3 separate regions of the Homo sapiens genome follow, and all the other regions are linked to region 1. The links come from fine-mapping of genetic effects on gene expression. A gene starts in region 1. Each other region holds a variant in brackets. All regions are shown on one strand. Distances are from middle to middle.

Region 1 (10,846 bases):
TCTCAGCCTCCTTATCCTGTTTTTAGTGGGACATAGGAGGAGTCCTGTTTTCTTTTCTGGCCTGGGGTCACCTGCTTATTTGCTGGGTGACCTTGGGCAAGTCCCTTCTGCCCTTTAAGCCTCAGTTTCCCTCATCAGTAATTGGAGTAGATGATTTCTAAAGCAGTGAGTTTTGGATGATCATAAATCCAAATTATTTTGGGAGTACTTGAGAAAAATACAGATACTAGGGGACCACCTTAATGAACTGACTACCAAGTTCTATGTATTTTAATTGAGGGTGGGAGGAACCCTTCCCCAACTTCCAAGTGGCAGAACCTCTCCAAGTCAAGCTGGGATTCTGGAAAGGTGCTCCCACTGGAAATAGACAGTTGGGTGGGTTCTCTTTCCCTCTTGAAGGTCCAACGTGAGCCCCCCTCCTCCAAGTCAGCGATGACTTGCCTCCCATGCCCAGCCAAGGACTTGGAGTTGCGGCGAGTTCCAGGTAAAATGGGAAATAAGATTTGTTTCTCATTGCTGTTTTCAGGATTTGTTAAAATAGTACTAAGAGATTAGCAGATAGTAGTTTTCATGGTAAATTCTCTATTCTGTGCCAATCTCCTCCTTTTTTGTTTTTAATTATAAAAGTAGTATACGCATGTTACCAAAACCACAGAAGAAATGGAGTGAAAAGCAGAAGCTCCTTTCCCACTCCCACCTTCCTCAAACCCACTCCATTCTCCACAGCCAACTAATGTTTGCATTTTACTTTATTTTTATTTTTCTAGCAAGAGAATCTTACTATGTTGCCCAGGCTGGTCTCAGTGCTAGATTACAGGTATGAGCCACCATGCTCAGTCCTATTGTTTGCATTTTCACAGAGAAATAATGACAAAACCTTTTAAGACCTAAAGAGAAGGAAAACAGCCATGTGCGGTGACTCATGCCCATAACCCCAGTACTTTGGGAGGCTGAGGTGGGTAGGTCGCTTGACCCCAGGAATTCAAGACCAGCCTGGCCAACATGACAAAATCCCATCTCTACAAAAAATACAAAAAAATTAGCCAGGTGTGGTGGTGAGTGCCTGTAGTCCCAGCTACTTGGGAGGGTGAGGCAGGAGGATCACCTGAGCCCTGGGGTCGAGGCTGTGGTGAGCTATGATTGCGCCACTACCCTCCAGCCTGGGACCCTGTCTCAAAAAAATAAAAATAAAAAAAAAGAGAAGGAAAACTAGAGGCACTGAGAATAATAAATTAACATTTGTGGAATGAACACTCATCCTAGATATTATGATGGTATTTAATATATATTTTTAAAAATTCAGTTTGTTCTGATTGGGAAATACTGGAGGGGCTTTGGAGCACAGATCATCCTCAGTCCCCTCACATATGTGCAAGTACTTTGAAGAGGGCCCTGGAAACCTTTCTTCTTTCCTGCACTTCCTAGACTTTCTCCTTTAGGCTGAAAGGGGGCTGCTTCGGCAACAAAGAGCATTTCATAAGCGGAGCATTTCTTAAGTAGACACCCCGCCTTTTTTTTTTTAAATTGAAATTTGAATGTGGTGAGTCTGAATTAGGGCCCACGGCATGATTAATTACAGCAACCATCTTAACCTGCCCGGGGGCTGGGCCTGAAAGAAATGAGGCCAGGCTGAAGAGAAATACAGCTAAGGATAGTTAGGAATGCTAACAAAACTTGGTTAACTGGCCCTGTTCTTCTCTCAGCTGCTAATGCACAGTTGGAAGATTTAAGGAATCAGTTCCTGTTTCACTGGTTCTGGCCGACCCCAGAATCAACTCCCTTGATTGGAAATAAACAGGATCTTCCTTTTTGTCCCCAGGAATGTGATGGAGGAAGGACTCTAAGGCAAAGGGCCTCTTCTGCCAAAGCAGAATAATAATAACAATGATGACAATAGGAATAAAATATTGCCCTCTTCATCAAGGGCGATAAGAGAATGTCCAGTTGTATGAGTTGAACCTTGTTGCTCTCTATGTGCCCGTCAGAGCTCCAGAATTCACAGGCTCAGGGTGGTCAGCATAGGTTGGATTTGAACTTTCTGTTTTGTGGTCCTCCTGAGTGCACTTGTACAAGCTGGGCTACGTGCTTCAATTTGGGGTTCAGAAAACAGGATCACAATGACAGCACTTCTTGCTGACACAGTGCTGTGAATGTCTGTGCACAAGTCTGAGCGTCTCTCCTGAACAGTATTAGTCAGGGATGTCCCTAGTGCCTAGCACAAGGCCAGAAGCTGGGGCACAGCGGCTGTGAAGTAAGATGGGCAGGATAGGAAGCTAGCAGCTCACTTTCAATGAGTCATGGAGTGGGGTGAGAGGACCGTGACTGCATGAGCCCATATTTTACCTCAGTGCTCCTGGGGCTGGGGCAGAAAGAGCTGTGTTCAGGACGAAGCCCCTACAGGACTCGTCTGCTATGTTCACCCTTGTAAAGTCTTTGTATTCCGGAGGAATTATTTGTCTAACTCCTAGGTCAGTCTTATCTCAGTGTTTTTTTTGTTTTGTTTTGTTTTTTGCTCTCTCCCCTCCCCGAGGGAGGGCTACATTATGGAGGAACTTTACTATTTCTGTTTAATCTTCCTTTTTGTTGGCAACAGTGATAAGGAGGTAGAAGGATGTTCCCCCTCCCGGCTTCCAATCTTCCTTGGTCCAGGGACACAGATTCTTTTTCTTTTCCTTTTACCTTTCTCCCTTCCCCCCTTCCTCCTTCTGTTCCTTCTATTCTCCTTTCCCCTCCTCCTTCTCCTTGTTCTTCTATTCTGAAGACTAACTCCAAAAGCTGAGGAGTAAGGACAGGTGAATCCAGTTTGTTTCTGCTGGTGTCCTCCCCCAACAACATTCAGGAAATTACTTCTGCTACGGTCTGAACATTTGTGTCCCTCCCAAATTCATATGTTGAAATCATAACCTCCAAGGTCTTAGGTGGAGCCTTGTGGGGGGTGATTAGATCATTGGCGTGGAGCCCTCAGGAATGGGATTAGTGCTGTTACAAATGAGGCCCACAGGAGCTAGCTTGTCCCTCCTACCATTTGAGGACACAGGAAGAAGGCCGTTGTCTGGGAACCAGAAAATGGGCCCTCACCACACACCAAATCGTGGGTGCCATGATCTTCAGCTTCCCAGCCTCCAGAACTGTGAAAAATAAATTTCTATTGTTTATAAGCACCCAGTTTATGGCATTTTGTTACAGCAGTCCTAGTAGACTAAGACAACTACTTTGCTCAAGAACTTTCAATAGCTCCCTATTGTTATCAGTTTACAGTTCCAACACTAAAGCCCCCCTCCAACAGAGCTATCCTGATCTTAATTTTTGTGATTTCTGCACATGATCCTTCCCCACACCATCAACTGGCCTTCTTGATGTGTTCACCAAGCAGAGACAGCAGTAGGTGGGGAAGCATTTCCAGCTGAAACTAACAGCTTCTGTGAAGCCAGAGGACGGGAGAGCTGGGACAGGTGGCTGAAGAGGTAAGAATTGATGGGATTATAAGAGATCTTCAGGGACATACTAAAGATTCTGGACTGTATTAATTATTACTTGATTAGGAGCCATTGAAAGATTTTAGGTAGGATCTAATTGGGCTTTTAAAATGGTTGCCCTGGGGCTATGTGGAGGAGGCAACAGTAGTGAGAGGGTGTGGAAAGGGGGAAAGATGCCAGCCCACTTTGGTGACATTGGTAGTGTCTGCAGAACAGCCTATGCTCAGATGACCCAGCTGTGTATGGAGGCAGGGGGATGGATGAGATGACCTTCAGTAACCCCCTTCTGGTGGGGGAAGGGAGAGCCGTTCTCCAATCTCATCTTTGAGTCAGCTTGGGCCTGTTTCCACAAGTCCTCTTCCATCTGTCAAAGCCCTTCTAGGAAAGCTGAGCTGAAAGGCAGCTGCGGAGGGCAGAGTGCTGGCTGGGTCCGGGCTCACTTCCTCCTTTTCAGGCAGGAAAAGCAGACAAAAGTGCACAATGGACCAGAGAGGGCGCGTCCAGCAGAGAAGGAGGGAGAAGGCGGGGGAGCTGGTCCTTGGGGCAACAGGCCTGGGAAGGTTCCCTTTGATCCCCTTATCTCTGGAGGGTAAGCTTTCTTTTTTGGCCTGCAGGACCTTTTGTTGCAGCATTTCCTGGAATCCCCCAAAGTAAACACAGTCAAGACTGCATTCTTACTGCTCTACTCTTCTGAGCCTGCTCCTCCCAGCTGAGAGAGGGGCAGGAAGGTCAACCCTCCGAGATCAACACTGCTCATCAAAATGCTGACAAGGGCCCACCTAACAATGTGTTAGGACCGGGGCTGTCTGAGAGACGATGCCAGTTAAGGCTGGGCTGGCTCTTAGCTGCAGCAAGAGTGGAAGATGACAACCAGTTGATATCTGGTAGCTCTGTGCATCCTGGACTTGGAGGCAAGAATAGGCAAGGAGAAAATCTGGATCCTTCCAGAGAATTTCAGAGAAAAACAGGCATGGGTTTAGGGAGTTACCTGCCCACTGGGCCTACTTTCATCCAGACAGGAGGCCCGTGGCCAGCTCTTCCAGGTGGGGATGGGGTGGGTGGGGAACAGCGAATAACCCCACTGATAACTTCAAGCCTCACAAATCTCTTGCCCTCTGAGGAGCAGGAGAAGAGAAGCCTGAAATTTGGGGTCACCAGCCAATTATCCTTCCCCAGGGTTTATTATTGTCAACTCTTAGAGGCCACAGGGAAAGGGTGGGGTGGTCTTCACCAAGCCAGCGTTTTATTTATAGGGAAATTCAACCCCCCCAATCCCCCTCCCCTCCTACAAATGGAAACTGGGCCGCACCAGGAGTCCTTCAACCTTCTAACTTTCCCTCTCCCCAGCTTTGATGAGGAGGGGCGTTCAGCCAAGAGGCCCCTCCTCGCTGCAGTTGAGGTCCATTATGTAACCCAGCTTGCGAAATGCAGGAAAGGCCCGGCTGGCTACAGCCCGGCTAACGGCTCAGAAAGGGCGCCCCTGATAGGAATACCCCCACCTCAGGCGTGGCCCAGACAAACGCGATAAAGCTGTGGGCATGGAGTTTTGGGCATTGGGACATCCGGGGGAGGGAGGGGCGCGGGCAGTCGGGGTCAGGCCGCCGTCGGGGCGCGGGGCGCTGCGGGCCACCTGTTGCAGCGGGCGGCCAGGGCTCACCTGCGCGGAGACCGGGCCGAGGGGCGGCGGCGGCGAGCGGCGGAGCTGAGGTCCCCGAGGCTAGCCCGCGCCTCCGGCTTCCGCCGGGTCAGCTGACTGCCCAGTGCGGAACTGTGCGCCCGCCGCGCTCCCCTGCCGCGCTCCCCGCTGCTGCCGCCGCGCCCCCGCGCTCCGTCCCGCGCGCCCGCAGCGTCCTGGCCGCCATGGCCGGGCTCGTGGTGCGTGGAACTCAAGTAAGTCCCGGCCAGCCCCGCCTCCGCCCGGGGCGCAGTCCGCGTGGGGAGGGACAGCGGGGCACAGAGGCTCCCCAGGGCCTAGACACCCCTGTCCCCGCCTCAGGGGGCTGCGTCTGCAGGGGGTGAGCTTCAGGTGCTCAGGCTCGCCCTAGTGGGGCTAGGACAGACCTCGTTTCGGGCCTGGCACACCCCCTTGATGTGCGGGAAGAACACCCGCAAGGTCTCCCGTTCTCCCCACTTCCTTCTGCCCTTAGCGCCTCACTGAGCAGGCCCAGCGGACACAGTGCTGACGGCCCCCGCTGCTTTTGGGGGCCCACAGAAAATGTTCCAATTTCATAATCTGAATTTTAAAAACTTTTGGTCAAAGAATCCATTTTGATAAATCACATTGATATAGTCATCTTTATACCAATGCAGTTGTAATATACAAATTTACTTATTTGTAAATGGAGGAAGGGGTTTATGAAGGCAAAAGTGTCTAGGGTACCCAAAGTCCCAGCACATCCCTGGAGATGAGGGTGCTGGTGGGCCCTGCGCTGAATGGGCTACGCCATAGCCAAAGGCTGATGGAAGGCCACCGACCTCCAGTTCTCTTTCCACACTCGATTTCTTGAACAGGAGTCTGTGATGAATGGCAACACGCCAGTTTCAATCCTGGGTGCCAGACACCCAGTCTCACATGCTTTGAGCTCTGTAGTGAAGCCTCAGGTGTTCATTGTTGGAGGGATGAACCCAGCCACTCTGGGACCAGGTGTCTTTCTTACCTGCTGGAAAAGCCAGTTCTCTGTCTTTAACCTCTTCTCTGCTCTGATGAAGCCAGAGCCCTCTTACTTCCCACCTTTCCCTGCACACCCTGGAGAAATAGTTCTGAGTTTTTGAAGCTCTCCTCTTGGATTGCCTAAGGCAGGTAGTGTCAGGCACAATTGGATTTTGAGATTACTTTGGGCTGAAGGGAATGATTCCTCCTTAGAGGAGATTCTAGGGGTTTTTACAGCTCCTACAGATGCAGTGAGGGCCAACTGTGCAGCCCATTAAACTAGCCGCTGCCTGTTTTCTTTTTTTCCAGAGTCCTGTCGTTTCATCAGGTACACATGTTTATTGAGTGCCTACTGTATGCCAGGCACCATGCCAGGTGTTGTTGGAAATTAGCCTTTCCTTTGTCTCTGTGCACCCCCCATTTAACAGTTTTGTTGCTCAGGAATGCTGGCTCTGTCCCTTGACCCACAGCCTGGGAGGAGAGAGCTGGAGAAAGACCAGAGTTCAGAAGTGAGTTAACAGCCTGCGGAGAGGCTAAAAATGACGGGTCTTGTTCAGCCATCGGGGAAAGGGGCTTTTTTTTTCTGGGAGTTAATTTACTGCCTGGAGGGAGGGGCTGGACAAGAGGGTCTTTTCCTTCTCTTGGAGTATCTACCTAAGAAGGAGGGTTCCCTGCCCCCCAGACCCTAGGTCTCTCTGCGTTTCAGATTTGGTGTTCTCCCGGTGTACCTTGCTACAAGTTCATGGGGCTGAGCACTTTCCTGTGCTTCCTTTCCCTTTGCTCTTCCTCCGTTTCCTAGATTCGATTTTTCCTGCAGCCCCTGTTCTTAGCCTACTCCAAACAGCCCAAGGGCATTCATGGAAGTGTGGGTGAGGCATTTTAGGCCCTTGGGGACTGTTTTATTAGACCGAGTTGCCTGGGGAGGAGCTAAGAAGGTAGGCTGGGAAAATGCCCCTGGAGTCTTAGTGCCCCATTTCCTAAACTGCCCAGGTTAGTGGATTTGAGTGTCTGGCCCCGGAGGTGGTTTTTTTGTTTGTTTGTTTGTTTGTTTGTTTTTTCTACATTCTGCTCCCAGCGATTTCTAATGGCGGCCGCTTTAAGAGGTAGCACCTTGGATGTGGGTAGCATGGAACAGTACTTGTCAGACTTTAGTAGATCCTTCTTAAAGGGAGGAAAATAAAACCCGCAAAACTTCCCATGAGCCCATAGTGTGAATATAGTTTTTATTACAATGTTACTCAAATATAAAAACATGAAGCCAGAGACAACTTTCCCATATCCAGAGACCTATAAATCCCAAATAAAGGGATGGTTTAAGTGCAAAGAAAAAAAAACCCTATGCAATTAAACAATTTAATGAGATGAATGCTGCGTGGCTTGAAGTTAGGTCACTGCTTTTAATGCCACTATGGGTTGACTGCTGTGGAGCTGGTTTTTAGGAGCTCCACAGGCCTATGATGCCACATGCCTGGGGATGTTGCAGTCTTCCTATTGCTTTTCTCTGCAAAAGGCTTTTCATTTGCCATGGGTCTGACTTCATTTGGCTTCTCTTGGCTTGAATGCATCATTTATGTTCAGCATTAAGTCATTTCTCTTTCCTCTAGCTTATGACAACGTAATACGATCGTAGACACAAATACAAACTTGGAATTTGGGCACTGAAATCTTGCGCCCAAGAGATATTGGAATAATGAATCCCTTCTGTGGGGAGAGTGGTCTGATTCAACAGCTGTTTAACAGAGTGGCCACTGGGTGCCAAGGACAGTGTTGTGCACTTTTAATATGTTAGCTCATCGCATTCCTGTAAGTACAATAGGGACGATAATATGCATGGGGCTGTTTCATGAGGATTGAATAGATAACAAGCACATGATAGGCATTTAATAAATGTTGGTTTTTACATTATTCTTAACACCTTTGGAGGAGTTAGTGTTAGCCCAGTTGCAGAAGAGGAAACAGACTCGAAGATGGTGACTCATCCGCGACAACACAGCTAGCAGTGGCAGTACCGGGAATCAGATTTGTACCTATGGTTGTTTCTACTCCGACAGCTTCCAGTACCACACATACACTTATTTATTTATGAATGAATGATAAGGTCTTGCTCTGTTGCCCAGGCTGACATGCAGTAGCGCAATCATAGCTCACTGCAGCCTTGAACTCCTGAGCTCAGGCAGTCTTCCTGCCTCAGCCTCCTGAGTAGCTGGGAATACAGGTGTGCACCACTGTGCCCAGCTCAGTATTACAAATTTAAAATCGAGGATCTCCCACCCCTGGCTAGGGGTAGGCATCAAAAAATAATCTCCTCAACATCTGACTGTTGACAAACTCATCATCTCCAGAAATGCCCTGGGAGCCAGAGAGTCCCAACGCAAAGTGAAACCTGCAGTCTTCTGCAGTTTGGTTATTTTCTGCAGCTTCGGCTTGGAGGGATTGGGTGTGTACATAGGTGGGGACCCCTTCCAGACACTCTCCTTTCCCTTTCTAGTTTCTTCTCCGTAGGGGTCTTTAACTTGTTATATTTTCATTTGCCTGGTAATGGTGTCCCTTCCTGTTATTCCACACAGGGTGGAGGTCTTAGGGTACAAATTATAGAAAATAGAGAAATTATAAGTTTGAATCTTTGTTCCTCAATGCAGTCTAAGTCAAGGTAATTGACTAAATGCAATGGTGTTCTGGATATGCTCTTGCTTCTGTGCCATTTAAGATCTATTAATCTCTGTATCCCGTCTCCCTTTTGCTGAAGAAGCAAACTATTTTTGGTTTGGCTCTTCTGGCCTTGAATCTTACATTAGGTGGTCCTGTGCTCTAAGAAGCTTCCTGACATCCTGAGAGGTAATGTCTTCCCTCAGAAGCACTTCTTAAGTCTTTTTTCTAGTTTCAAGCATTGCTTGCAATGTCTGGCAGTGGCTGCTTGCTGCTTTTAAGCCTTTTCCAGCTGATTTGAGCCCTTCAGCCTGGTCGGCTTAACTCACATCTCTAAAAGCTTCTACTTTACCACAGGAGTTATCTAAGCATGCAGATTACTTATCGAGTTGGTTCTCATGCTAAACTTTTGAGACTTGGTCTTCACATTTGAGAACAGTGAGAACAACTTGTATTTTTCTTAGTCTTCCTGGGATGTTGTATAGTTAAGACCATGTACTGAAACAGGCTGCTGACAGTCTCATCAGATGTTGTGAGTGATCCAAATGCTTTATGATAGCTCTCCTTGGTGCTCCTGTTTCCTTTGAATGGAATTCCTACAGAAGAAAAAGGGAAGCAAATATCCCTCTCTTTTCCCAGGCTCTAACACTCTTCTTGGGTCCTCAGTGTAGCACCGTGGGAGAAGTTCTTGCCCTTTCAGCTCAGAAGACTCATTTTGAAGCCAAAACATGATGATAGATGCACCACTGGCATTTGCTGATCAAGAAAACTCATGTCTGCCTGGTATGGTGGCTTGTATCTGCAATTCCAGCTATTTTAGGAGGCTGAGGCGAGGGGATTGTTTGAGTTCAGAGTTTGAGATCAGCCTGAGCAACACAGTGAAACCCCATCTCTTTAAAAAAAAAAAAAAAAAAGAGAGAGAGAAATCTCACACCCACACATGGATTTGTAAGCACTCCATGGCCCCCAAGTTGGAAGTCCTTATTTATGGCATAGGACTTGATCTGGGCTCTATCACTAAGAAGCTGTATTGTGCTGGGCAGGGCTCTGGAGTCTTAGTTTCCTTGTATAAAACATCAGAAGTTTTGACAAACTGGGTGTCTATTAGATTTAGTCCTTGGCCATTCTAAGAGGAAAGAGCCCAGTTTCTGCATCTAAAACTCAACGTCTCTGCTATATATATCACAGAGGTCTTGACTGATAATATGTGCAAGACAGTAGTGCAGGCTGGGGTGAATGGGATGGATTTTCTGGTGAGCGCCATGGACCTGGGGTTCATTGTGAACGTACAATACAGAAGAAGCTGCTGAATTTTTTTTTTTTTTTGAGACAAGTCTGGCTCTGTCGCCCAGGCTGGAGTGCAGTGGTGCAATCTCGGCTCACTGCAAGCTCCGCCTCCAGGGTTCACACCATTCTCCTACCCTAGCCTCCTGAGTAGCTGGGACTACAGGCACTCCCCACCATGCCCGGCTAATATTTTTTGTATTTTTAGTAGAGATGGGGTTTCACCATGTTAGTCAGGATGGTGTCGATCCCCTGACCTCATGATCCTCCCACCTCGGCTTCCCAAAGTGCTGGGACTACAGGCATGAGCCACCGCGCCTGGCCAAGAAGCTGCTGACTGAGCAGAGATCCTGAGGGAAATCGAAGTCCCCAGATAGAATAGGGCCTTATAGCCACAGTCTCTCTTTGGCATATGATTTCTGTCTCAGCTTGGAAGCAGAACTTAATTTATTACACAAGGAACTGTGAAGAAAGATGGACCCCAGGTAGAAAGAGGAGAGATTGCTAGATTGAACTTAGAGTCCTTTATTTTTTAGCCTATATCTTCTTGAGTCAAAATTACTTTATTGGAGTCAGCTATTTTTCTATCCTTTCTCCTTATTTTCTCTCCTCCTAGAATGAAGTTACTGAAGGAGAGTGGATATAGGATATTGCATTGTCAGCAGTTTGTCCTCATTGGATAGGAGAAGGTTGAGAGATGACTGGAGATGTTGAGGGTGTCAGGGTTCAGTGCAGCTTGTATTAGGTTGCACCATGTAAAAGAGCTATTTTGTGGTTCTAAAATGGTTGG
Region 2 (10,846 bases), 1.0 Mb after region 1:
CCTGACGTAAGATTTTCTACACATATTTAGCTCAGCATTTTTAGTTTTTCTCAGTGGGAGCATTGGTCTTCAGCCAGCTAGTCTATCTACTTCACTCTCACTCTCATCAAATTATTTTATTCACACTTTACAGATCTTGAATTTGAGGCTAAATCATCCACATTACAAAGACAGAAACCCAGCCCCGCCATGCTCTCCTCAGTCTGTCTAATCATAAGACATAAAAAGCTAAGCCTCTTTCTACTCAGGCCCCTATTTCATGTCTCATTCTAGGGTCAGTTGTCAAAGAAATCTTGATAAGAAAGTATTAATTCTTAAGGGGAAGCTCTTCCTCATGGATAACTGCATTTTATTAATAGAGCTGTTTTGAAGGCCTACAGCCTTTGATGGAAATAACTATTTTGGAAGAATAGAAGTGAAAGGTTTGCTGTTGTTTGCTTGGGTCTCAGTAATACCCCTGGGGCATCTACCCCTACACATACAGCCAACTTTGCCTTTGAATCTCCCCTCTCCATCTGAAGTCTTTGTTCTTTCCAATGGATTTATAGCAATTTACTTCCTCATGAAAAAAGAACTTGCATTCCTGAATCTCTGCAATGAACTGAAGAAGCTAACTGTACAACTCAATCCTGCCCACAAGTGGGCAAACCAACAAAACCCTTTGAGAAAGTTATATCCTATTTTATCTAATAATGGTCAAGATGCAAAAGACGTGAATGTCCTCTTTTATAGCAAGGACAAAAAACTCCACGAAGATGAGTGTATTTAAAAAACAAAATTGAGGCCAGGCGTAGTGGCACATGCCTGTAATCCCAGCACTTTGGGAGGCTGACGCAGGCAGATCGCTTGAGTCCAGGAGTTTGAAGCCAGACTGAGTAACATGGCAAAACCCTGCCTCTACAAAAAATGTAAAAATTAGCCGAGTGTGATGGTGCACACCTCAGTCCCAGCTACTTGTGAGGCTGAGGTGGGAGGATCGCTTCAGCCCAGGAGATCGAGGCTGCAGTGAGCCATGATTGTGCCTCTACACTCCAGCCTAGGCAACAGAGTGAGACTCTGTCTCAAAAATAGTAATAAAATAAAATAAAATAAAGCTGCTTATTAGTTGTTTGACCTAGACATAAATTCATTTAACTTACCATAGCCTTGATTTCTTCTCTGACAAAATGGGCATAGCAATCATACCCTTTCATAAGGTTGTTGGCTGGGTTGTATGAAGTCATTCATGTGATTATTGATTAATTGAGTGATTTTTCAGATTTCACAAGAGTTTGAAATAAAATAATTAAAAATTAATAAATTTTGTTATAAAGGGAATGGCACTGTTTCAAACTTAGCTGCTGCTATTGCTGCTGTTTGGTAATAAATTCTAGTCCCCTTTTGACTTCGATCAAAATCTGATGCCCTAACTCAGCTAGAATGAGTTTTCCCATTGCCCATGTGTCTATTTTTGTTAAACGGTGGACCCTAATCAACCGAGGAGGTGTTTGTTATAGAAAACCAATGACTAGGAATCACCTTCTCAGATACAGAATATGAGGCCCCAAGGGGTGAGGGGAGGTGTCCATGGTTACTAGACCTGGGGGTCTCCTGACTTCTAGGCTGCGAGGGAAAATATCACAGAGTATGCTCTGATTCCTAGAGGGCCAGAGGGGCTCCTTTGTGATCCCAAGTTCTGGTTCACCTTCTATATGGAGTTGTGTTCTGGTCTTAAGGGACTTACCCTTCCATTCCATCACTTTCTGCCATCAAAACTTTCCTTTCTGTTTTCTAAGACAATATCAATGGCTGTGGATATTGAACAATTGTCTGATAAAAGTGATTTTTGACATTAAGGATCTAAGTGCTCATATTTGAGAGTCTGATCTAGTGACCCTCATGAATAACAATCACACCTTACTTAGTACTGGGATTTTCCCTTTACAGTTGATGTTTACTTACATGATTGACCTGCGTAACAGTTTAAAACAGGTAGGACCACGAGGTCAGGAGATTGAGACCATCCTGACAAATATGGTGAAACCCTGTCTCTACTAAAAATACAAAAAAAACAAAAAAATTAGTCAGGCGTGGTGGCAGGCACCTGTAGTCCCAGCTACTTGGGAGGCTGAGGCAGGAGAATTGCGTGAACCTGGGAGGCTGAGCTTGCAGTGAGCCAAGATCGTGCCACTGCACTCCAGCCTGGGCCACAGAGCAAGACTCCATCTCAAAAAACAAAAACAAAAACAAAAACAGGTAGGACCACAACAGTAACAATAACTGCCATTCATCAAGTGTATTTTGTTTGCAAAAATATCTTCACTTTCATTTCTTATTTAATTCATATGCTAATCCTTCAAAGTGGGTGATATCATTACCCATTTAATAAAATGGCAATTGCAGCTCAGAAGGCAAAGAATGTGCTCAGGATCATAAAGCCAGTAAGTGATGTAGAGAGATTTTCAACCCAGTTTGTTGATTAGGCAAAACAGTAGTCTTTTCACGGCACCTTACTGTCTTTCCCAAGTTATTTCTCCAACCTGTACAGAGAGATTGTGCCTTGACTAAAAAGCGCCAGCAAGTTTATGATGGGTGGTTGAGTCAGGAGTAGAGTTTTAATCTTCTAAACCTTAACCCATCTCTCTTTCTATTGACCATACACTTTTCTCCCCATTAGCATCTCAGCTTTTAGAAATGGACATTTTGTGAACCTCCCCATTGCATTGCATCTCAGTTGTTGTATTTGAGATGCTGGAACGTGGAGATGCAATGCAGTGAACTCAACAATCCAAAATAGCCAATCCAAAATTTTGGTGTCTAAAGAGTTACCATTTCCACTATAACAGATCGCCATCAAATTTACTTAATGTCAATATCACATTATGTACACTTTAATTTCCAACTCAGAAAAAAAGGTCTAGATCTGTTTGTGGCTTTATTACCAATGTCACCATTATTTTTGAGCCATTAGTATAAGGAGTTCAGATGTTTGAGTTCCTAGAGTATTAAATAAGAGAGAATTTAGACAACCTTAATTTTTTTTCTTTTTTTTTCTTTTTTAACCATTGTCATGAGACAGACTCAAGTTCAAATCCCAACTCAGTCATTTATTGATTGTGTGGACTTGGCCAAGTTGCTTAACCTCTGCGTCTCAATTTCTTAACTTTTAAAATGGAGATAAAATCTACCTTGAAGGATTATAAGGAAGAAAGGTTATTTGTAGGCAGTACTTGGCATGCAAAAGCTATAACTTACTAATAATAATTATTATTTTATTTATTTATTTATTTTTCATATATATTTTTTATTATACTTTAAGTTCTAGGGTACATGTGCACAATGTTCAAGTTTGTTACATATGTATACATGTGTCATGTTGGTGTGCTGCACCCATTAACTTGTCATTTACATTAGGTGTATCTCCTAATGCTATCCCTTCCCCCTCCCTCCACCCCACAACGGGCGCTGGTGTGTGATGTTCCCCTTCCTGTGTCCAAGTGTTCTCATTGTTCAGTTCCCACCTATGAGTGAGAACATGCAGTGTTTGGTTTTTTGTCCTTGTGATATTTTGCTGAGAATGATGGTTTCCAGCTTCATCCATGTCCCTACAAAGGACATGAACTCATCATTTTTATGGCTGCATAGTATTCCATGGTGTATATGTGCCACGTTTTCTTAATCCAGTCTATCATTGTTGGACATTTGGGTTGGTTCCAAGTCTTTGCTATTGTGAGTAGTGCCGCAAATAAACATACGTGTGCATGTGTCTTTATAGCAGCATGATTTATATTCCTTTGGGTATATAGCCAGTAATGGGATGGCTGGGTCAAATGGTATTTCTAGTTCTAGATCCCTGCAGAATCACCACACTGACTTCCACAATGGTTGAACTAGTTTTCAGTCCCATCAACAGTTTAAAGTGTTCCTATTTCTCCACATCCTCTCCAGCACCTGTTGTTTCCTGACTTTTTAATGATCGCTATTCTAACTGGTGTGAGATGATATCTCATTGTGGTTTTGATTTGCATTTCTCTGATGGCCAGTGATGATGAGCATTTTTTCATGTGTCTGTTGGCTGCATAAATGTCTTCTTTTGAGAAGTGTCTGTTCATATCCTTCACCCACTTTTTGATGGAGTTGTTTGTTTTTTTCTTGTAAATTTGTTGGAGTTCATTGTAGATTCTGGATATTAGCCCTTTGTCAGATGAGTAGATTGCAAAAATTTTCTCCCATTCTGTAGGTTGCCTGTTCACTCTGATGGTAGTTTGTTTTGCTGTGCAGAAGCTCTTGAGTTTAATTAGATCCCATTTGTCAATTTTGGCTTTTGTTGCCATTGCTTTTGGTGTTTTAGACATGAAGTCCTTGGCCATACCTATGTCCTGAATGGTATTACCTGGGTTTTCTTCTAGGGTTTTTATGGTTTTAGGTCTAACATTTAAGTCTTTAATCCATCTTGAATTAATTTTTGCATAAGGTGTAAGGAAGGGATCTAGTTTCAGCTTTCTACATATGGCTAGCCAGTTTTCCCAGGACCATTTGTTAAATAGGGAATCCTTTCCCCATTTCTTGTTTTTTGTCAGGTTTGTCAAAGATCAGAGAGTTGTAGATGTGTGGTATTATTTCTGAGGGCTGTGTTCTGTTCCATTGGTCTGTGTCTCTGTTTTGGTACCAGTACCATGCTGTTTTGGTTACTGTAGCCTTGTAGTATAGTTTGAAGTCAGGTAGCCTGATGCCTCCTGCTTTGTTCTTTTGGCTTAGGATTGACTTGGCGATGCGGACTCTTTTTTGGTTCCATATGAACTTTAAAGTAGTTTTTTCCAATTCTGTGAAGAAAGTCATTGGTAGCTTGATGGGGATGGCATTGAATTTATAAATTACCTTGGGCAGTATGGCCATTTTCACAATTTTATTCTTCCTATCCATGAGCATGGAATATTCTTCCATTTGTTTGTATCCTCTTTTATTT[C/A]ATTGAGCAGTGGTTTGTAGTTCTCCTTGAAGAGGTCCTTCACATCCCTTGTAAGTTGGATTCCTAGGTATTTTATTCTCTTTGAAGCAATTGTGAATGGGAGTTCACTCATGATTTGGCTCTCTGTTTGTCTGTTATTGGTGTATAAGAATGCTTGTGATTTTTGCACATTGATTTTGTATCTTGAGACTTTGCTGAAGTTGCTTATCAGCTTAATGAGATTTTGGGCTGAGACGATGGGGTTTTCTAGATATACAATGATGTCATCTGCAAACAGGGACAATTAGACTTCCTCTTTTCCTAATTGAATGCCCTTTATTTCCTTCTCCTGCCTGATTGCCCTGGCCAGAACCTCCAACACTATGTTGAATAGGAGTGGTGAGAGAGGGCATCCCTGTCTTGTGCCCGTTTTCAAAGGGAATGCTTCCAGTTTTTGCCCATTCAGTATGATATTGGCTGTGGGTTTGTCATAAATAGCTCTTATTATTTTGAGATAAGTCCCATCAATACCTAATTTATTGAGAGTTTTTAGTATGAAGGACTGTTGAATTTTGTCAAAGGCCTTTTCTGCATCTATTGAGATAATCATGTGGTGTTTGTCTTTGGTTCTGTTTATATGCTGGATTATGTCTATTGATTTGCATATGTTGAACCAGCCTTGCATCCCAGGGATGAAGCCCAGTTGATCATGGTGGATACGCTTTTTGATGTGCTCCTGGATTCGGTTTGCCAGTATTTTATTGAGGATTTTTGCATCAATGTTCATCAGGGATATTGGTCTAAAATTCTCTTTTTTTTTGTTGTGTCTCTGCCAGGCTTTGGACAACCTTAATTTCTTATTATGCTCACTACTTCTTGTGGCTGAGCCAAAACACTCATGCTACAAGACTAAATCAGTTTCTGGAGTTTAGAAGTCTTTAGTGCTTTCTTCTACTTTATTGAATTAGTTCTTCATTGAGAGAGAGAGAGCATATCTAGGAGGAGCCAGCCTGTCTTGGATTGTAGTGATATTTTGAATGGTTCCTTTACTTGTTTTTGAAAGCTCATAAACCCCTGTTAAGTAGACTAGGTGTCCAGACCTTCATCCTTGATGCTGGCTCAGGCCCATCTGTGGAGATTGACATGGCTTTAACTTCATGATGAAGTTAATTTCATCTTTTAACTTCATGATGAAGTTAATTTCATCATTTAACTTCATGAGCTATAGACCCATCATAGATCCATCGATCCAGTTTTCCTTCCAGGCCCCACATTAACTGTGCCAAGACCAGAAAACACAGAGACTTGGCCTAGACTTTTTTCTTGGATACTCCTTTCTTGTGAGATTGCCACTGGAGCTCAGCATCTTGGCCTCTCCCTATGAGATACAGTGGGGGTGAATGAGGAGGGTAAACCGGCTGAGGATGCAAAAAAGAGAATGACTCACTAGCTGTGCATCTTAGCAAGGCATGGAACTTCTAGCACGTGGCTGCTGGCAAAAGCTCAAATAACTGTATATCTGAACAAAGAAACCATATTCAGGACTGCTAAATCCCAGCAACTTAAGGCTCTGCCAGGCAAAGCAAGAGAAAGAAAGGGGAAGGATTTGAGAAGGGGTTAATTGAGGGTGAGGTAAAGAAGTTTTACTCTGTTATCATGTTGACCAATTTGTATCCATTTGCCTTTCTCCTTTGAGTCATTGTCATTTCAGTTGCTGAGAAGTGGACTGAAACCTTGCTGTTAGATGAGGAAATAACCCTGCCAATTATACACACACACACACACAAACACACACACACACACATTCCCCACACTGGCATGCCACTGCCTTTTTCAAGATAGGAGGAATCCCTTAACTAGTTATTTCATCATGCATGAAAAACCCCAAAGTAAAAATGTTGGAGAATTAACAAAAAAAAAAAAGTTACAGCCGCCAAGCCAATGTTGCATTATTTTCTCAAAAACTCATGATGTCATGGACTTAGCTCACCTTTAGTGCAGCCATGCGAATAATGTGTACTGAGCTTTCTATCATGTACCATTATAATTAGCTCTGTCAGGTCTTAGCCCTGCAACCCTCATGCAGATAATATGATAATATGTCTTCATAACCAAGTGACCTTACATGCACAATATTTCTCCCCTTATGAAGATTGCATGTCAATAAAGTAATTGAGTCTCAGAGGCTGCAGCGAGGGAAGATTTAGGTGATTGGACGTGGAGAGCAGTGATGTATGATGATTATTATTCCTCTTGTCAGGGAGGCGCGTACAAGCGAGGATGGCCAGAAGATGACAGGGATGACGGGTTGCGTTTCATTAAAAAAAAAATTGCTGTTAATCACCACTCTATTCTTTTCAAAGTCACTGAGGAAAGAAACTCTTTTTTCATTGTAGCTACAATGAACATCCCCAAATGGGAGCACATCGTAAGATTTTTAGCCTCAGTCCCCTTTCACAGTGTCTTTCTTCTGTTGCAAAGAGGCTAAATTAAGATTTTAATTAATAGATCAGCCATGGGGGCCTGGGCAGGGGCCACCCAGCTTCCCTGCTGTAGGGCTCCTTGGGTTTCCAAATGCAGAAAAGGCGCCTGCCGAGATGGAATTGCACTTCCTCTCCTCTCTGCGTTGAGAGAAGTGTGCTGGTGAGCTCTATAAAAAGAAAGCAAATGTGAGAGAACCAGATCCGAGACAACTATTTTTACTTGAATTAATTTGTTTGGACAGTTTTAACACTTGGAACATTTATATTTCCATACTTTATAAAAGCAAACATGCTGTTTCTCTAGCTGTAAATTTATCTTATGATATCATAACAGCTGGAAACTTGTAGCCTGGTAGGATTTTGTTTCATATTTAAACAGCTTGAGAAATATGTCGGAAACAAGGTATATTTTCCCCCATCTCTGTGTGTTTTCTCCTCTCGTATTAGGCTACCTTAGGAGTGTCGGCAGTATCATTCAGAAGATACTGAGGCTCCAGGATTTTTATTAGCCTGGCATTGTTAATTGCTGCTCCCTTGCAAACCTCTTCCTATAAATGCTGAGAACACACTGGAGCCCCTTCCAGAGGAGTTCAAGAATCTTTTCAAGGGGAAAGAAAGCTAACAGTAAAAGCATCTTTTGTTGGCAGAGGGGCTTCTGAAGTCTTTAAATCTTTGTTCATAAGTAATTGACTAAGATCTAACAGCCTTGAAGGAAAGGAGCTGATGGTATCACTTTTTAGTCATAGTATTAACCTTGTGATTTATGGTACAAAATTAGCCACTGCATCCTCTCATTACGGGTGCTGAGTGATTTCTCCAGGCAGGCAGGAGGGAATTGAGAGCTGGATTTTTGTCTCCTGGAGCTCTACTGTTTCCTCCTAGGGAACCACAGTGAGTGTTTTTAGGGATAGGAATATTGTTTTCCTTCCATTTTCTCTGCTCTGTAAAAGAAAATATCAAATGTAAGTAAATAAATAACCTAAGGGAGCTAGAATGTTCAGAGGAAATGTTAACCCAAGGGTGGTCCAAGGGTGGCAGTATAGAATATAGAGTTTCAGATAGGGTCAGTGAGTGATTTCAACCTCCTAATTGTCCCACAACCCCCTCCTCTGCCTCCACAAATTCAAGGCCAAAGCTTTCTGAGTATTTTTTCCATTGAATAGTATCTGGAGTAGAGATTATATCCATTTCTCCATCTGGATAGTTTTTTCCTAATGAATTAAAAACCACCTAATAGACTTCAGGGACACTAGGAAGACTCTGATGATTTCAAGAATTCATAATCCTTATTCTATGCTGACATTGAAATTTTACAAGTGGAGCTTTATCTCTACAGTTCAAGGCTTTGGTTTCTGGTGAAAAATATGTCTCTCCCTGGGAGGAAGAAGCAGATTAACCTATTATCAGTTATTTACATCTGGGTGGAAAAAAAAGATCTAAATATTTTCTGAATGCTTTAAGTAGAGAACAAGCAAGATAATAACTAGGTGCTTGGGGAGTGAATTTACGTGTTTGAGGCGGGCTGATGCAGAGAGGAGCATGGATGCGAACGGGCCCATAACTAGGAGCTTTTTGCTGTTGAAAAGCAACTTTGCTGACTGCACAGTTTGTGTGAGCCCTCCTACAGCTCAGTTCTCTCCTCACATCAGCCTGCTTCCCTGGGTGACGACAGTGTTAAAAGCACAGACTTCAGAGTTAGACTGCATAAGTTCAAATCACTTCTCTACTACTTGCAAATTCTGGGGCTTGAGAAAGTCACTAGTCTCCTGTATGTAGCTCAGTTTTCTCATTTTTAAAAGTGACAATAATGGTGCCTTGCTCTAGGGCAGTTATAAATGTAACATCCTCATAATAACCAATAATAAGAGTATAATCAGTGCTGCCTGTTGTTATTATCCCAGTGGATGATAACTTAGACCTATGCTGGATTCGTTGTCATTGGTGATGGTGGTGGTGCTGTGGATGATAAAGAGATGATAGATCCTGATATGGTTTGGTTGTGTCCCCACCTAATTCTCAACTTGAATTCCCACATGTTGTGGGAGGAACCTGGTGGGAGGTAATTGAATAATGGGGGTGGTCTCCCGTGCTGTTCACATGATAGCGAATAAGTTTCACAAGATTTTATGGCTTTAAAAAACGGGAATTTCCCTGTACAAGCTCCCTTCTCTTGTCTGCTGCCATGTGAGACATGCCTTTCACCTTCTGCCATGATTGTGAGGCCTCCCCAGCCACGTGAAACTGTAAGTCCAATAAACCTCTTTATTTTGTAAATTGTCCAGTCTCAGGTATGTCTTTATCAGCAGTGTGAAAATGGACTAATACAGATCCTAAATATAGCAAGTGTACTGGTGCTTAATTTCCCTTTGTAAAACTTGAGTCCTGGCTGATTATCTCCAAACTTTCCCTTGACTTCTTTCCCTGTATTTTAGTTCCAGTGTGTATAAAAGTGAAAGCTGAACTTTCTGAAATGTCGTGGGTGTGGGCCTGGGGGTGCTGCTGGTGTGGTGCTCCTTTACTGGCTCTGTCTTGCCATAGATCTCCACAGAGCCCTGAGCTGTAGGGCTGTTGATGACAAAAAGAGAACATAAAATGCTAGAGGAAAGATCATTCTAACACGGTGCAAATCCCCAAACCTTCCCTACAATTTCTCTGTCTCCCATGCCTCACCCAAAGCAACATTTGGCCTAGAAGGGAACTTTGAGATGATCTGGCCCCATGCCTTTCACACTGAGCTATGCGGAATTCTAGCATTCCAATGAGACTTGTCAGAGGTGCAGGGGGAACAAGTGGTGACCCATCAGGGTGGAGCTAACAGGGCTCCCAAAGCTGGCTTCCAAATCCATTTTTATCCATTCAATACACTGGGGTCTAAAGGAAAATATCATTTAATGAAAAAATTTTATTGTCTAATGTAACAACAGAAGGTTCAAGCATCAGTGATCTAGTCCATCTTGTTCATTTTACAGATGAGGCGCAGAATAGGCTTATCACTGGCTCATGTCACTGCCAGTTAGTCATGGACCCTAGCCTTGAAATTGCTCTTTGGAAACCCCACTGTTTCCAGTATTGTGTCTGCATAGTGGCTTCCACGGGCCGAGGGCTCACCTCATTGCCCCCTCCCCACATGCCCTAGCTGGTCTCTTGAATGACTATAGCACTAGCATGTGGTGGCCATGTGTGCCACCAGTGCCACCACCCTAATGGCAGCTGTGATTATCAGCACAGAGGCCCAGGAAGAAGGACAGAATGGACTGCTGGCGGATGAATTGGGAGGGGAGGGAATGGGCAGAAGTGGAGCCACATTGAACTCAGAAGTATAAGTGAAGAACCCACTATAATGTTGCATGGGGCCTTGTTCAGCAAAGGAAGATTGCTGTCTCCCAGTCCAGTGCAGCTGAATTAAGTGATCTGGCCAGGGTGGCAGTGGGGCCTGTGT
Region 3 (10,846 bases), 22 kb after region 1:
CACCCATTTTACTGTCCCAGAATCTTGGGGTTTATTTTCCTGTCTTGTAAAGTCTCTCTCTCTCCCTGAGCTGTTGGAATTTGGGCCGCACTGCCCCACCCTCTCCCTCTGCCCTGCTGTCTGTTCTGAGGACATTATCGTGCATGTGAGTGGTGCTGCCTTCCACATTGTCAGGGTGGCTGTTAGGAGCAGTGGTGATTTGGGGGTGTTAGGAAGGAGACTGGAGAATTTAACCCTTTCAGACTTTCTACTTGCTAGACCTTCAAGTTCTCAACCAGGAAATTCTGCTACTATAGAGGGCATTTTATTGTCACAGTGATGGGGGTGGGCTCTATTAGCATTTAGTGGGTGAGGCCAGGGATGGCAAATGTTGTCAGGGCATAGGACAGCTTTGGATGAAAGGAATCCTTCCCCCACTATGCCAACTGCAGCCTGTTGAGAAAGACCTCTGGGGCCCTGTTGGAGATGGCTGGCAGAATGGTTCTCTTGATGAGCTTCATGATAAAGCAGACTTGCCAATAATACCAAGAGAGAAGACTGGCTCTACTCTCCAAAGGAGTCCAGGGACAGAGAGTCAGACAGATGACATCAGAAGTCATGTTTAGGCTGGGTACAGTGGCTCACGCCTATAATCCCAGCACTTTGGGATACTGAGGTGGGCAGATCACTTGAGGTCAGAAGTTCAAGACCAGCCTGGCCAACATGGCAAAACCCCATCTCTACTAAAAATACAAAAATTAGCCAGGTGTGGTGGCATGCGCCTGTAATCCAAGCTACTCGGGAGGCTGAGGCAGGAGAATCATTTGAACCCAGGAGGCGGAAGTTGCAGTGAGCCAAGATCGTGCCACTGCACTCCAGCCTGGGCGACAGAGTGAGACTCCATCTCAAAAAAAAAAAAAAAAAAAAAGAAGTCGTGTTTATTTTCAGCCAACATTATCAAGTATACACTACATGCCATGGCTGGGCAGAACACTTACATATGTTATCTCATTTACTCCCAACAACATTTTGAGAATGGAGCTGTTCTTATCCACATTTCACAGATGAAGCAACTGAGGCCCAGAGAAGCAGAGTAATTGCCTGAGACCACCCTGATGGTTAAATGGGAGAGCTGGGATAAATGGCCCCAGTGGTCTGACTTCAGCTTTACAGTTATCCTAAACTGCTTTTCATGGTGTAAATCTTTTTTCTGTGTGTGGGAGAAGACAGCTACTGCCAAGCCTGTATTTACTTTTGGGTGGGGATTGGGAGGGAAGTTTCCTTCTTTTTTTTTTTTTGAATCATTAAAGCCTGTGGAAGTCACTATACCAGGGTCTGAGTAGATTTTGTTGCTCTGAGTTCAAGACCCTAGAGGCCCTGAAGTCATACGTATATAGCATTTCCTGCTCTCTCCCATTTCTCTAAAACCTTTCTGATTTGGAAAGTTTGGCGAGGCAGGACCTCATGAGGCCTGGGAGGTGGGAGTTTCCCAGAGAACTTATCTTCTTCTTTCTTCCTCTCCCCTGCTCTGTGAGATGTGGTTCAGATCAGAGATCGCAGCCGTGGGACAAATGGCTCAACAACTGCTGACTGTGGTGCCAGCCTTGGGACTGGGGGACCTTGAGATGGACAACTGCATGCTTGAATTTTGAGTCTGAAGGGAAAAGAAGAGGTGCGTGGGGGTGTGTGTGTATTTGCACATGAACTCACTTGCCTGCACACACCCACCGTCTGAAAGGCCTCTTTCCTCTCCTCAGGGACTGTAGTGTTGGTGATTTCAGCTGTTCCCTGCTCCTTGATGATGAAAGGGGAGCGATTATGCTTTTTGCTGGGTGTCTGTGTTTAATTGCAGGGATATAATAACTACAAATTCTCCCTGGCCGAGACTTTTCTAATAAAAGGTTTCTTCCATCCCAGCTGCTTTCTCTTCCCTTTCACACCCCCACCCCCATCACTGTCCTAGCACAAGGTCACTTAGGGTTTTAAATGAGAGAGAGACACACACATGTTCAGGTTTCGCGTAGAGTGTTTTTTTAAAGCTCCTCCTCCAGACCCATCATTATGGAGATCAGCTGCTTGCCCCCACCTCTGCACCACCTCCCCTAAGCTCCTTGCTGAGTTTATACAGAACCCAATTTTTCAGTCTCTTGGGTGTCTGCTTTTTCTCTGGTTCTGAAGAAATAAGAGACGGGTAGAACAGGGAAGACCAACAAAAGAGGTTTAAAAGAAAAAAAAAATCACCAAACCATTCTTGAGATAAAGCAAGACTTATTAAACACAATTGGAGGGAGGGCAGGAGAGGCGGTGTTAACCCCCACACGGCCCGTTTCCTGCAGCTGGAGAAGTGTTTTAAGAAAATGCACCATTGTTAAAACTTTCTTTTTCCTTGATGGATTTATTTATAAGGTAGAGAAATATTTTCCCCATAATTGGGTAACTCTTAATAGTAGCAATTGCATATTTATCAGTGTGAGGGGCTGTTATTAATGTAACTGTCAGGCCCAAACACATTTCTGCATTAAATCCATTTAGTATGTGCATTATTCGGGCTCGAATGTCACCGGGACATCAAAGCCCCGTAGGCATGGAGAGCTCAGTGCCCTGCTGTGGCTGCCGAACAGGCCCTTGATCAATAAATGTAACATGTTAATGCAGAGCAAATAGAATAAAAGATTTCTTTGACAAGACATGAAAAATCACCTTGTGGCAGCTGGCATGTGATGCCGTTTCTGGGGAGACACTAGCAAAGTTGATCTGACAAGTAAAGAGGAGAGATGATGGTTGTAAGGTGCTTTTGTTTCAAACTTCTTTCTTGACCTGTCAGGTTTTGAAGGCGCCTCAATGGCTCTTTTTTGTCATGTGAAAATTGTAGTCTTAGGTAGTTATGAAGCAGTTATCTCTTCTCAAATTGTGAATGCTGCTGTTTAATTGATTCACTTAGCATTTGAAACTGTCACGCATTAATAATTGCGAAATCCTGTAGATACTGCGTGAGTGTGTCATGCTTAAATGTGTAGTTATCAGAAAATTAATATCCTTAATGAACCGGTGCTTTCAAACTAACATTGCATGAAATCTCTTTTGCCCTTTCATTTGCTGAAGCCACATCCGCCAGTTTGCCGAGAATCACCTCTCGACAGTTTGCTTTCTTGATGCCCGACAAATGCCAGCTTTGCTGTGGGTACATCGCGTGCTCAATGACAATAAATATAGTAATTATACTGGAGTTAGTAATTAACATAATTGTAGTCAATTACGACAAATACAGTGCAGAGCTAAATAAATGAGAGGGGAGAAATTAGCAAGCTAATTGATTTATCTTTACTTGGCTTTCTATTACAACTGGCAGGGCTGTTTTTCTTGGGGTAGGGGAAGTGGAGGGGAGAAAAATTCCCCACAAGGATTGTTTACAAATAACTGATTTTGTTTTGAAGTTGCTTTTGACTTACTACACTTCATCCCCTACCCTGCTTCTAAGGGGAAAAAAAGAAAAGAGAGACTTTAAATGCCAAGGGAACATTTTGTTAATTTAGCTACATCAAGCTGAATGCTGCAGCTAAGGCGAGGCAGGATTTAGCTTTCGCTACGTCTTGAGGAGTTATAATTTTTTCTTCTCAGCTATTGCTCTGGTAAAAAAAAAAAAAAAGCATTTTTTTGGTGTGTGTGTATGTGTGTGTTCTAAGTCTCCATCGGTGAGGTGGTGCTGTGCTGGATAGTACATTTGGGGGTTATATGTGCATGCTAATTTGCTCAATTCTGTGCCGTTGGCTTGGTGTAAGAAGTGGGCATGTTTTCCTTGGTTCAGTCCCACTTGGTCTTGTTATGCCTTTTTCTTTCAGTACCCAAGGAAGGGACGGAGGAAAGAAGTGGCCAGCGTTGTTGGAGAGGTCAAGGGAGGGGCTCCAGTGCAGACCCTCTGCTCACTTCCTCCTTCACTACACTTCAGGATTTGCCTGGGGTCCTGGGCTGTCACACTCCTGAGGCTGCGTGGAAAGTTTTTGTTGGCGTCTCGATGCCCATTTATTTTGAGCTGGTTTATTCTGTGCTGCCTGGAGCCCTGGTTAGTGGTGTTTATCGCGCGTCTCTGTTCTTTGTTCACCCTTTTCAACGTGATTGCTGTTCACGCCGCTAAGGGAGAAACTGCATGTTTTGAGACTTGGGGTCACATCATAGCCTTGTTTTTTCTTGCAAATTTTAGAACAGGATTTTTTTTTCCCCTTTGCTTCTTGCCACAAGATAAGGGCTAGTGGCCAGAGCCTTTTTTGGATCGGGTTTTAAAGCCTTACCCTTGTCTTACCCAAGGTTAAAACTCAGTGATTTCAGGATATGACTTTTTTTTTTTTTTTTTTAATGTATCCAGTATCCATTGTCAACCTTACCACCACCCTAGGTTATTCCTCTGAAAATTCAGCAGTTTAGCAAAGCAAAGATTTGTTTAGCTCTTCTTCCTGGAGATTTCACTGGATAGGTTTCTAGCCTGACTTGAAGGGAGTTTGAGGCAGCAATTTTAATTCTGTGTTGTGCATATAATCCTTCATGACCTCATGTGGAATTCAGTTTTCCAACTGCATTAAAAAAGCTGCCTGTATTTTATTTCATTGGGATGCACTTGGACACTGCTTAGTGTGGTCACTTGATTTGGAAATCAATTTCTGATATGAAATATTTATATACAAGAAAGCATTTAAATTATTTAAAGTTTACAAGCATAATGGTCTTTCCGATGGAGTCTCAAATTATTTTAGTAAATGTGGGGATCTTTTGAGAGGAAAAGACTTGTATATTTGGGGTGGCTGGAGGGGTAATGTTACCTGGAACTTCAGCCTGATTTAGTTTAATATGGGTCAAAGAGAAATCAGATGAGTCATATATGCAGCTTTGTTTACCCAAAAAAGATAAATTTCAGATATTATTGTATACCTCCAACAGGGCATCCTTCTGTGAATGCCTTCAGAGACAGAGAGAGAAAATGTGTGAAGAAGAGCTCTGGCGGTTGACCTTTGTCCAAATGTGGCATTTATAGTAGTTTTGTCTCTGCCTGGAGTCTCTACCTAGCTGCTGGTTTCCTACACTGTCTTTTCTTTTGAATTTCATAGCAAACATGAGTGGGGAAAAACATAGGTTGATGGCACAGGAAGCTTCTTTTCATTTTTATTCCTTTAAAATTAAAGTTGTGCTAATTGAAGCTAGCTTTAGTTTGTCCCCGTACTGCTAAAGAAATGAAAGCATGGGATCATTTAGATGTATTCTTTTCAAATACAGTGCTGTTTGCAAAGGTGCCATTTTTTTCCCGAAGACTTTTCTATTTCACTTAGACATACAACCCTCTAGAGGTTTAAATATGTGAGTTTTGAGGTGCTTTGTTCCTCAAAAACCCTAATATGTTTTTTTCTTTTAACATTTGTTCTGCTTCAGCTCTGTTGA[T/C]TGAATGTATTAAAATGCATTTTGGGGGTTGGTGGAGCAGAAGGTGAGAGGGGATGGGGTGTGTTAAGAGCTTTTGCTGACTTCTGAGGAGATAGATGGTTGGGCATTGCCCACTCGCTCGCATGTCATATGTAGGGGTACAAAGTTGTGATCCCTTTCCTCACCCATCATAGGGGCCATGGCTGACACCTGTGTAACAAAAGACAGGTTAGCAAGAGAAAAGCATAGCAAATTTATTTAATCAAAATTTTATGTGACACAGGAACCTTGTGAACTGAAGGCCCCAAAACCCAGGGAATATGATCTGTTTCTATGCTAAGGTTGGATGAAGAATGGACAGCCATGTAGAAATGTCATTGGACAAAAGGGTATGATCTAATGGTAACAGACGGAGGGGGCAGGGAACCCAGCAAGGACTGCCTGCCTGGATTCTTCTTGGCTTCTCTGTGTAGCATCCTTCCTCCTGGCTATAGGGCAGGACGCTTCTGGAATGAGGGTCTTATGACCAACTATCAGACAAGGTAGGTCAGAGAATTTCTTTGTAGCCAGCTCCTACACAGAAAGGTGGGGGAAGGTTTGAGTAATATTTTTAGGTTTTATGGTTTGTTTTGGGGGAGAGGGGTTCTACTTTCTACAGACCCACCTTGGGGAGGAGGAATTCTGGCTTCTGCAACTCTCACTTTGGGGTAGTAAAACGGGCAGGAGACGGTCAGAGAGGCCTTGCATCCGAGGCAGCCTCTGAGACCTTCCCGTCTCCTTTAGTTCCAAGTACTCAGCATGCCAAAGCACCATACTCTGGGGTATCGTTTTCCGAGTCCCAACACAGTCTTTAAGGTGGGGAGGGTGCACTGGAATTGCCTGGTGGGGTGTTAATTTTGTTCCAGTGACTTATTTTTCAGAATGTATTCCCTATCCCTTCTAAGTGCTTCCTCCGAAAGTGCTGTGAGCCAGGAGCCTGGGCGGCAGCCATCTTCACCTGTGCTGGCAGTTGGATCACGAGTCTGTCCTGGTTGGCTCACGTGAATTCTTCCCAGATGCCTGAGGTGGACCAATATCACAGAGAGCTAACCATTCTTCCAGTTGTAATTGGATATAGCAAATCAGTACTCTGAATTCAATTCTTTCAGGCTGGGCTTTGGCAAGAAAAAAATCAGCCTTACCTGGGGTATAGAAAAATGGAGCCTGGCAGTGGCTCCTGAAAGTCTTTCGTCAAGTGCTCTGCCTCTGAGGAGCACTGTATTTGTTCCAACTCGTGTCGTGAAGCACAGAAGAATGACAGTAGGGGTAAATTTAACCATACACACCAAGGCTTTTCTTATCTTCTTCCTCTAACTGGTGGGTAGAAGTCAGGCCTGGGCCACTTATGTTTTGGAGGATGCCAGTAGGGTTACAGTGGTCTTTCTAGCTGCCTGGTACAACGGGACCCCTCCTTGGAGGCACCTGAGCTAGGTGGTCTTTCTTTAGGGTCTTGTCATGGCTTGTACAGGCATGGCAATAGACTAATCCTTTGACTAAATGAGAGTGGGAACTGCCCAGAATAGCGTGATTTCCCCAGAACTGTCTTCAGATATACTCAAAGGCTGAGAACTTGACCACTGTCCCTTGCAGGTCTCCTCCTGTTTATTGTAGATACATAGGTATTGTTGTATACCTTCAGGTATCGAGAGACAGAGTTCCTGCAAAGGCCCCGAGTTGGGTTCCCAGCACGTGGACCTTACACCTGTGATGTTTCCCCATTTGAAAGCTCACATGCTCAATGTGGAGATAAGGCTAATACAGGTGAAATTATTAGAGAACAATATGGGGCCATGGTCAGATTCTCCCTGTGGACTTTGAGAACCTTTCAGTTCTCTCCTACTGGGGAACATAGCGACTCTGTCTACTGCCTGGGAAGCTTATTGTCTTTGAGCTAGTGAGTGGCATTGGGGAGCTATACATGGAGAGAGGGTTCCCAGCCAGCCCAGCAAAGCAGGTAAAATGACCCAGGTGAGACCTGGGTTGGCTCCTAGACAGGGGCATACCTTATGTACACACAGGATAGCACAGTCCAATTAATTGCCAGGAGTATAATAGAGGTTCTCATGCCCAAGAAGTTGTCAGAAGGGAGAGCATCTTCAAAAGAAACTTCATGAAGAAACTGAGACCTGAGCCACCTCCTGGAGGGAGGGCAGGATTTTCCATGCTGCCTTAAGACTTCGGAGCCTGTACAACATCAGGGCTTTGGGGCCAGGATTTTCCTGAGTAGGAATGGTGAGAACCTGATCTGTATGCCCTCAGGGGTGGGTTGGAATCCACAAGAGAAACTGGAGAACAGGGTAAGTTTCTTCCCACACCCAAAGACATAAACCCTTTTGCTGTGTAGCGTAGTGGTGATTCTGGGACATAGAAGCTGGCCATGCCAGAGTCTTTCAGAGAGGCCAGCCAAGTAAGGACTCAAGGTATGGGTTCTCCCATCAAATTTTCACCCTGGAGTGACAGGAGTTGCGGGGGAGACAAGCCACCTCCAGCGGGTGGAGGGCAGCCCATTCCCAGGCTGAGCAGGGCCTGCGTTTCGGCCCTGACACATATACGCGGCAATTACGCTGTTAGAAGGGTCACGGTTAATGCAGTTCTTCCAAGACTCCTGCCACAAGCATGTGCCTCTTCACACCCAGCAAGGCCCTGTGGGCTGGCTCTGTGCTCGTTCAGAAGGGGAGGAACCAAAACTTGAAACCTCATCTTTCAGAAATTGCATTTATTTTCACTCTTTCATGCCACAGTGTTTCTGCAAGGCCAGCACTTAGGGGTACATTCTTCCCTGGGAGAATTGGTAGATTATTGATTCTGTGAGTGCCTTAGGGCCTTTGCAGAAACTCTGTCTCCCATTGAAATGTATGCTTTTCCAGGATGGGATAACAGCTTCTCTTTCAGAAGTGCCCAGGACAGGGTTACACACTAGGTAGGTGCCCCTCTATCAGAAGACACAATCTAACCTGGGAATTCTTCTTTTGCTAAAATGGATTTTATTTTATTTTATTTTGTTTTTTGAAAAAGAGCTTGCTCTTTCGCCCAGGCTGAAGTGCTGTGGCACAATCTTGGCTCACTGCAACCTCCGCCTCCCAGGTTAAAGTGATTCTCCTGGCTCAGCCTCCCGAGTAGCTGGGATTACAGGTGCGTGCCACCACTCCCAGCTAATTTTTGTATTTTTAGGAGAGTCAGGGTTTCACCATTTTGGCCAGGCCGGTCTCGAATTCCTGACCTCAGGCAATCCACCTGCCTTGGCCTCCCAAAGTGCCAGGATTATAGGCATGAGTCACCTCACGTGGCGGTAAAATGGATTTTAAAAAAAACATGGTAATTGCTTATTCTAGAAGAGGTAATGGTACTGGTGACTCCCATTCATCTATCAGTTTTCCCTGATGACCTTCTTGAATCTTTATGGCAAGCAAGGTGTTCTTTCCAGCTTAAAGACAGAGAACAAAAATGTGCAGAGGTTAAAAGGCTTTCCCAAGGGCATGCAGCTGGTCAGTGGGGGGACCAAGATCTAAATGCAGCTTTGCCTGACTACAAAGTCGACTGTTAGCTCCTATACTGTATTCTATTTGATGCATGTTTCCCCTAATTCAAATTCATTGTTGTCCTAAGATCTTTATCTGGCAAACTAGTATAGGTTGACTGAGAAGAGGAAAATTGTCTTCCAGGCTCATGAAAAGGGGACAACCCCTACAGCGTAGTGGTGATTCTGGGATGTAGAAGTTGGCCATGCCAGAGTCTTTCAGGGAGGACAGCCAAGTAAGGACTCGAGGTATGGGTTCTCCCATCAAACCTTCTCCCTGGAGTGACAGGAGTTGCGGGGGAGACAACTAAGGCTGCTGTTGTTTTATTTTCTTCCCAAACTTATATTTCACCTTATCATTTTTTCAGGAGGAGATAAAACTGTAGGCACTGAGGCTGTACATTAAATAATAGTGTTTTGAAAGTCTATAGAAAATTAGGTTAAGTTTTATTGTCCTGTTCCTTTATGGACCACCAGTTTTTGGTTCTATCTCAGATATGTTTTAGTCCTCTTGCTGCTGCCGTTTATCTGGACGGCATTTTCCATCAGTTACAGGCAAAGAATATTGTCCTCTTTTCTCACTCCTCAGAGTGTTTCTGGGTTCCAGGGGAAAGAGGTGATTTGAATGCAAATGCACTTTAAATCACTAACACTACATAACTCTAATGCATTACTGCCATTTTTTCTTTTTACTTTTAATTGAGAAACTGAACTCTTGCTAGTTTGAAGCTCAGAGTCATTGTTGGAGACCAAGAAGCTGGGGTATTTCTGGCTGGAGGATGATCTAGTAGAAAATCAAGGAGATCATTAAGACACAGGATGCCTGAGTATTGAGTATTGAGTATTTGTCTTTGTTCCATCACAAATCGTCTGTGAAATATTGAGTAGGTCATTTAATCTCTGTTGTCATTCTCCAAATGGGAGATAGAAGGAGTTGTGAAGACCAAATGAAATACTAAATGTAAAAGAGTTTTGTTCCTGTAGAAGATATACTGAAAGAGTAGATATCCCAAAAGTAGTTTATTTCATTTTTGATTCTTTTGACTTTGAGCAGGTTTATCTTTAAGATTATTTTGCTTGGGGTCCTATGGCATTGGTTGTTTATAGGTTTGGTTTTGCAAAGTTAGGGCTCTGTGGGGGGTCTACTTCCTGCCAGACTGTAGATTGCAAAGTTATGGACTTGGGTCTGAATGGCCAGGTTTCCCTTGGGCAAGGACAACTGAGAGTATAACATTTTCCAATTCAATTATGTTTTAAAAGGGAAGAGGGAGGAAGCAGAATCTTCATTAGAACAAAATAAACATGATGATTATTAGCAGTGATAGAATACTAAATAAGGTATGTCATTATAGTAAGATTTTAAGAAAGCCAAACGTCAGAGTAAAATTCCATATCTTACTTAACAATTTTGAGGCATGATTTTTATCTAGTTGTACCTCTGAGCTCAGAGAAGAATTTTATCACCTAACCCTCTACAGCAGTTTCAACATAGATGCACCCCACCCTTCCCCAATTTGCTCTTCCACAGACTGTACCTGATGGGACAAGCTTTCCGTCAGGTAGCAGGAGGAACTAAATTTACTCTTCCTGCCTTGGGCTTGAGAACAGTTATCTTCCTGGTTCATGTAGTATCAAAAGGAAGATCATAGACCTTGCAAGGAGCAAGCGGCTATTTTTACAACCATAAAAAAAACTCCCATCTGATTTTTTTGTCTTTACTAAAAGTTTTCATTTTATGCAATTTCTGATCTACCTTGAATTGAATGGTTCAGTTGTAACTTCAGGGTCTGCTTTAGATTTTTTTTTTTTCTTTTAAGGACTTGTTAGAACCTCTTTACAGAAGATGATTGTAAAAATCACAGGCAGTACGCAGCAAGATGGAATGTGGAAATTTGAAATTGATTTAAT

Which allele goes with the higher level. Alleles are on the strand shown, and positions count from the first base shown. SD is a standard deviation of normalised expression in the study named. Not every link is listed here.
As copies of C replace A in region 2, the expression in cerebral cortex of the gene that starts at base 5,236 in region 1 goes up (moderate effect, 0.65 SD a copy in GTEx).

The links. PIP is the estimated chance that this variant, and not a neighbour inherited with it, causes the effect.
Region 2: its variant is the best candidate, but not a certain one, in a credible set for the expression of LRMDA in cerebral cortex (GTEx, PIP 0.70).
Region 3: its variant is the best candidate, but not a certain one, in a credible set for the expression of LRMDA in whole blood (INTERVAL, PIP 0.66).

Annotation. Positions count from the first base shown.
Region 1 is chr10:75,426,389-75,437,234 of GRCh38, forward strand. It overlaps LRMDA (leucine rich melanocyte differentiation associated), which reads left to right and starts at 5,236. Exons shown (of 7, transcript NM_001305581.2): 1 at 5,236-5,366. The coding sequence starts at 5,337. It overlaps LOC107984293 (a long non-coding RNA gene), which reads right to left and starts at 5,222. Exons shown (of 2, transcript XR_001747703.2): 1 at 5,134-5,222; 2 at 1-3,922. RefSeq lists enhancers at 5,044-5,544, 5,545-6,045 and a silencer at 5,186-5,285.
Region 2 is chr10:76,422,331-76,433,176 of GRCh38, forward strand. All of the region lies in intron 6 of LRMDA (leucine rich melanocyte differentiation associated), which reads left to right. Among named protein-coding and RNA genes, the nearest start is that of KCNMA1-AS1, 460 kb to the right of the region's middle. RefSeq lists an enhancer at 10,783-10,846. The variant C/A (reference allele first, on the strand shown) is at 4,946.
Region 3 is chr10:75,448,266-75,459,111 of GRCh38, forward strand. The region is part of intron 2 of LRMDA (leucine rich melanocyte differentiation associated); the gene reads left to right. Among named protein-coding and RNA genes, the nearest start is that of LRMDA, 22 kb to the left of the region's middle. RefSeq lists an enhancer at 2,302-3,187. The variant T/C (reference allele first, on the strand shown) is at 5,404.